Linked DNA regions of Homo sapiens. The protein of the gene in region 1 purifies or fractionates together with the protein of each later gene. This does not show direct contact. Each region holds a gene or a part of one and is shown in the gene's direction. Other genes may lie near its edges.

Region 1 (3,500 bases):
CCCTATTTCTTTTCTTTTTATAACTTAAAGTTTTATTTTAGATTCAGGAGGAATATGTGCAGGTTTGTTACGTGGGTGTATCACATGATGGCGAGATTTGGGGTACAAATGATTCCATCACCCAGGTAGTGAGCATAATACTCAACAGTTAGTGTTTCAACTCTTCTCCCCAACCTCCCTCTTCCCTCTATTAGTCCCCAGTGTATGTTGCTGCCATCTTTATGTTCATGTGTACCCAATGTTTAGCTCCCACTTATAAGTGAGAATATGCAGTGTTTGGTTTTCTGCTTCTGCATTAATTCACTCAGGATAATGGCCTCCAGTTGCATCCATGTCACTGCAAAGGACATTATCTTGTTCTTTTTTATGGCTGTGTAGTATTCCATGATGTATATGTACCACATTTTCTTTATCCAATTGACCACTGATGGGCACTTAAGTTGATTTAGTATTTTTGCTATTGTGAATAATGCTGCAATGAATATACGAGTGCCATGTGTCTTTTTGGTACAATGATTTATTTACTTTTGAATATATACTCAGTAACGGGATTGCAGAGTCAAATGGTAGTTCTGTTTTAAGTTCTCTGAGAAATCTCCAAACTGCTTTCCATAGGCTAGACTAATTTACATCCCCACCAACTGTATATAGGCATTCCCTTTTCTCTGCAGCAGCTCCAGAATGTGGTTGTGTTTTTTTTGACTTTCTGATAATAGCCATTCTGACTGGTGTGAGATGATAGCATATTGTGGTTTTGATTTGCATTTCTCTGATGATTAGTGATGTTGAGCATTTTTTCGTATGTTTGTTGGCCACTTGTATGTCTTCTTTTGAGAAGTGTCTGTTCATGTCTTTTGCCCACTTCTTAATGGGGTTCTTTTTTGTTTTTTGAAATATAATTTTTACAGATTCTGTATATTAGTAATATGTTGAATACATAGTTGGTGAATATTTTCTCCCATTCTTTAGATTCTCTGTTTACTCTGTTGATAGTTCATTTTCCTGTGCTCCAGCTCTTTAGTTTAATTAGGTCCCACTTGTCAATTTTTGTTTTTGTTGCAATTCCTTTTGAGAACTTAGTTATAACTTTTTTCTCAAGGCCAATTTTTTCTCAATGTCAAGAATGATATTTTCTAGGTTTTCTTATAGGATTTTTATAGTGTGAGGTCTTATATCGAAATTTTTAATCCATCTTGAGTTAATTTTTGTCTATAGTATTAGATAGTGCTCCAGTTTCATTCTTCTGCATATGACCTACTAGCTATCCCAGCACCATTTATTGAATAGGGAATCCTTTCCCCATTATTTATTTTTGTTGATTTTGTTGAAGATCAGCTGGCTGTAAGTGTACAGCTTTATTGCTGGGTTCTCTATTCTGTTTCATTTTTGTATCTGTTTTTTGTACCAGTACCATGCTGTTTTGTCTACTGTAGCCTTACTGTATAGTTTGAAGTCAAGTAATGTGATGCTTCCAGCTTTGTTCTTTTTGTTTAGAATTGCTTTGGCTATTCAGGCTCCATTTTGGTTCCATATGAATTTTAGAACAGTTTTTTCTAATTCTGTAAAAAATGACATTGGTAGTTTGATAGGAATAGTATTGAATGTATACATTGCTTTGGGTAGTATGGCCATTTTAACAATATTGATTCTTCCAATTCTTGAGCATGGAATGTTTCCCCATTTGTTTCTGTCATCTATGATTTCTTTCAGCAGTGTTTTGTAGTTCTCCTTGTGGAAGTCTTTCACTTCTTTGGTTAAATGTATTCCTAGGTATTTTATTTTTTGTGTAGCTATTGTAAATGGGATTGCATTCTTGATTTGTCTCTCAGATTGAATGCTATTGCTGCATAGATATGCTACTGAGTTTTGTACCTTTATTTTATATCCTGAAACTTTATTGAAGTCGTTTATCAGTCCCAGGAGGCTTTTGGTGGAGTCTTTGAGTTTTCTAGGTATAAGATTATATCGTCAGTGAAGAGAGACCATTTGGCTTCTTATTTTGCTATTTGGATGCCTTTTATTTCTTTCTCTTGCCTGATTGCTCTGGCAAGGACTTCCAGTACTATGTTGAATAGGAGTGGTGAGAGTGGGCGTCCTTGTCTTGTTCCAGTTCCAGTTCTAGTTCTAGCATTCAAGGAGATGCTTCCAGCTTTTGCCTGTTTAGTGTGATGTTGGCTGTGGGTTTGGCATAGATGGCTCTTATTATTTTGAGGTATGTTCCTTCAATGCCTAGTTTGTTCAGAGTTTTTATCATGAAGGAAGGTTGGATTTTATCAAAGTCTTTTCCTCCCAAACCCCTATTTCCAGATAAAGTTACATTCGTGGATACTGAGCATTAGGATTTCAACATTTGGTTTTGGAGGACACAATTCAACCTACAATATATCCAATAACAAAACGAATGACAGCAGTGCATTGCCTATATATTCCTAGGTTCAAAGTCAGCAGAAAGAAGAGTATGTCTCTCTCCTAACCACTCAGGCAAAACCATGACCTGTCATTCACTGGCCCTAATGTGCTCATCCCTGAGCAGTCACCGTGACCAGAGGGATATGACACCGTGTTTGTCAGACATAAGTGCCCTGCCCAACACTGGAGCACCTAGGCCAAGCATGTAGGAAATGTAGGCTTTCCAGAAGAACATTAGAAATCATTACTAAAGAGTAATGGATACCGGATGGCCAAATAGTTCTTATACATCAAGACAATTTAAAATACGTCCAAGATAATATGATTAATAAAGTATAAATAAAGTAGATATAGCATAGACATGTGGTTACTCTTTACCCATGATGTATTATTTTTCTTTTATGTTTTGTTGAATCCCAGTTTTATTGAGGTATGATTGACTTACATTAATGTGCACATATGTAAAGTGTAAACTTGATGAGTTTTAACATATATGAAACCATTACCACATTCAAGATAATAACTATCTCTATCACCTGCAAAAGTTTTCTTACATCCTCTTGTAATCCACCCTCCCCTGCCCTGCCCATTCCTAGGAAGCTTAATCTGTTTTCTGTCCCTATAGATTAGTTTGCATTTTTAAGAATTTTATATAAATGGAATTATAAGTAGGTATTATTTTGCATCTAGGTTTTCTACTCAGCCTAGTTATTTTTGGTTCTATCCAAGTTGTTGTGTGTATAAATAGCTCATTCATTTTTATTGCTCAGTAGTATTCTATTGTATGGCTATACCACAGTTGGTTTGTTCATTCACGGTTTGTTTATCCATGGACATTTGGGTCATTTTCAGGTTTTAGATATTATAAAGAAAGATCTCAATTGGGAAACGCTTACTTAAAATTAGAATGTATTTTATTTAATTATGAATAAATTATGTGTAAGTGTAACGTTCGTTGCAATATTTATCTAAAATGCTGATAAAATTTTTTCCTTTTTCCTTTCCAGATACTGAGGAGAGCAGACAAAAATGGTAAGACCAAAAATCTACAGTATCTATTTATTAATCTCTTACATTTTATATTACCTTAT
Region 2 (3,500 bases), on another chromosome or scaffold:
ACCTTCTTTACAGGCGGGATGGTTAAATAAGTAGATGAAAAAAGTAGAAACATTAACATCTAGAAGTAATTTGCACAGTGATCAGCAAATTATCCTGGCAGTGATTTAAAACTCTAATGGTCTCCTTGGCTTTTGCCATCATCTCCAGGGCAGGTCTGGCTGTGGACACTGTGTGAATTCAGAGATGTAACTGTTTTGTCCTCACAGGAACAGTGGAGGCCATGTGTCTTTTGGCAGTCAGTCCAGATGGGAATTGGCTAGCTGCATCAGGTACCAGTGCTGGAGTCCATGTCTACAACGTAAAACAGCTAAAGGTGAGCATAGGGTTTCATGGCAGCAGTTTGAATCATTGTACAGGAGCCAGTTCACCCTGCAGTTACAAGATTCAAGGCAGATTGGCATGACCTGGAAATTTATTAGACTTTTTTCTTTTTATTTTCTTTTCTTTTCTTTTTTTTTTTTTTTTGAGACAAAGTCTTACTCTGTCACCCAGGCTAGAGTGCAGTGGCGCGATCTCGGCTCACTGCAACCTCAGCCTCCCGGGTTCAAATGATTCTCCTGTCTCAGCCTCCTGAGTAGCTGGGATTACAGGTGTGTGCCTCCACACCTGGCTAATTTTTGTATTTTAATAGAGACAGGGTTTCACCGTGTTGCTCAGGCTGACCTTGAACTCCTGAGCTCAGGCAATCCGCCCACCTCGGCCTCCCAAAGTGCTAGGATTACAGGCATGAGCCACCGCGCCTGGCCAGACTTTTTTCTTTTTAACTAATAATTTTTCCAGGTTTGGAATCCTGTTTTATTTTTATGGAACCCGGAAGCTATACTGTGTAACATTAAAAGCAGCTAATGGAAACAGTGAAACCCATTCATACCTGGAAATTTGAAATTAATGATCTGTGGGTGATGTAAACACATCCAGGTTCTTTCTGTATTTTCGGGAGGAAAATTCTGATATACACAGACAAATAGTTGCAGATAATAAGAGTTCCTTTCATGGCTTGCCTTGTAATCTCAAGGTAAACATAATCAAAACTTCGAAAAAGGAATACTGGGAAAACATTTTTCACTAATCAGTAATGACGCTGTCAGTCATAAATTGAGTCATTAGTGATCCCTTACAAGTCCTCATCTTCATTATAAGAATCAGATTCGAACTACCCAAAACTTGGAATAAGCATTAAAAGTGTATAGAATAACATCAAACTGCAACACTTAATGGGTTTACCTGTTAACTGCATAGTGTAACCTTTGTTGCATTATGGTAGGAGCATGTACTGAGCACTTGTCTTTGAGCCTTGCCTGGCATTTAAAGAGTGTTTGTGTGTAGCGTGCACATGCTTTGCAATTGTACATAAAAATCCATGCCTAGGCATTTATTTATTTTAAACCTGGTGTAGAGCTGTAGACTCCCTATTCAATGACACATTTATAAGCAGTTTGTACAGATGGATTTACTCAGAGGGAAAGGCTTTACTCTCAGTTCTCCACAAACGCTGTTAGTTTTGTACGCGGTTAAATAAGCTTTTTATTTTTTTGAGACAGGGTTTCACTCTGTCACCCAGACTGAGTGCAGTGGCACAGTCACAGCTCACTGCAGCCTTGACCTCTCTGCTCAAGCGATCCTTCCACCTCAGTGTCCTGAGTAGCTGGGACTACAGGCGAGTCCCACCACACCTAGCTAATCTTTTTTTTTAGTAGAGATGAGGTTTTGCTGTGTTGCCCAGGCTGGTCTTGAACTCCTGGACTCAAGCGTTCCTCCCGCCCTGGCCCTTCCGAAGTGCTGTAGTTACAGGTGTGAGCCACTGCGCCCAGCCAATAGGCCTTTTGTTTTTTTTTTGAGATTGAGTCTTGCACTGTTGCCCAGGCTGGAGTGTGGTGGCGCAGTCTCTGCTCACTGCAACCTCCGCCTCCTAGGTTCAAGTGATTCTCCTGCCTCACCCTCCTGAGTAGCTGGGATTACAGGTGCACGCCACCACACCCAGCTAATTTTTTTAATTTTTGGTAGAGATGGGGTTTCACCATGTTGGCCAGGCTGGTCTCAAACTCCTGACCTCGTGATCCGCCTGCCTTGGCCTCCCAAAGTGCTGGGATTATAGGCATGAGCCACTGCGCCCGGCCAACCAATAGGTATTTTTTTAAGAAAATGAGGACTGGTGCGGTGGCTTACGCCTGTAATCCCAGCACTTTGGGAGGCCGAGGTGGGTGGATCATGAGGTCAGAAGTTCAAAACCAGCCCGGCCAACATAGTGAGACCCCGTTTCTACTAAAAATACAAAAATTAAGCCAGGTGCAGTGGTTCACGCCTATAATCCCAACACTTTGGGAGACCAAGGTGGGTGGATCACCTGAGGTCAGGAGTTTGAGACCAGCCTGGCCAACATGGTGAAACCCCGTCTCTACTAAAAATACAAAAATTAGCCAGGCATGGTGGTGGGTGCCTGTAATCCCAGCTGCTCGGGAGGCTGAGGCAGGAGAATCACTTGAAACCGGAAGGTGGAGGTTGCAGTGAGTCAAGATCATGCCATTGCACTCCAGCCTGGGAGAAAGAGTGAAACTCCATCTCAAAAAAAAAAAAAAAGAAAAACAAAAAATTAGCCGGGTGTGGTGGTAGGCGCCTGTAATCCCAGCTACTTGGGAGGCTGAGGCAGGAGAATCACTTGAACCTGGGAGGCAGAGGTTGCAGTGAGCTGATTATCACGCCACTGCACTCCAGCCTGGGTGACAAGAGCGAAACTCCATCTCAAAAAAAAAAAAAAGAGAAGAAAAAGAAATGAAAGTTCATTGGTTGGGGAAATGCCTGAAATTTTTGGAACTTCCCTAGAACCCTTTTGAATTATGAGGAGCAGTATTTAAACCCCTGACCTAGACCATTCAATCTTTGCTGAGGAAAAGTGTCACTTAGAGTTGCCACTTGTGTCTGTTATTTGTTCCCAGCTTCACTGCACGGTGCCTGCTTACAATTTCCCAGTGACTGCTATGGCTATTGCCCCCAATACCAACAACCTTGTCATCGCTCATTCGGACCAGCAGGTAAGGGAGATTCCAGTGCTTTCTATTCCCTTCCTGCTGGATAGTAACCTAGAAGCTGGAATATTGGGCAGTTGCGGGGAGCTTTTTTTTGAAGGTGTTGGAGGATATAAGGTAGTTTTCTCCTGTGTGAAGTAAAGCTTCCTTGCCGGTCTGGGCTCATCATAGGCCAGCAGTATGCATTGGTTTGATGGGATGCAATTTAAATGGAGAAGCACTAAGATTCTAGAGTAAAGAATCACAAGAGGGAGGAGGAATTTTGAAGTACTCATTTTCCTGATTGTTTTAGAGGAGAGATGACATGGGCTTGGGTATTAAACTGGATATGGGATGGAATAAGATTTTGAGAGTTGAAAGTGACTAAAAGATTGTATCATTCACCTTTACGCTTGCCGATGAGGAAATCAAGCCCTAATAAGATCAGGTACCTAATCTCAGCCAAAATTAGAACCTAATCTACTTTTTTCTATACC

The links.
Region 2: the proteins of NECAB1 (region 1) and UTP4 purify together in Homo sapiens (affinity purification with mass spectrometry; 2 studies listed by BioGRID and IntAct, with this or other methods). This does not show direct contact.

What each region holds. Positions count from the first base shown.
Region 1 is NC_000008.11:90,798,275-90,801,774, forward strand, and holds part of NECAB1 (N-terminal EF-hand calcium-binding protein 1), read left to right. Parts: intron 1-3,416; coding exon 3,417-3,441; intron 3,442-3,500.
Region 2 is NC_000016.10:69,160,149-69,163,648, forward strand, and holds part of UTP4 (U3 small nucleolar RNA-associated protein 4 homolog), read left to right. Parts: intron 1-207; coding exon 208-314; intron 315-2,934; coding exon 2,935-3,030; intron 3,031-3,500. UniProt on the Homo sapiens protein: Ribosome biogenesis factor. Involved in nucleolar processing of pre-18S ribosomal RNA. Part of the small subunit (SSU) processome, first precursor of the small eukaryotic ribosomal subunit.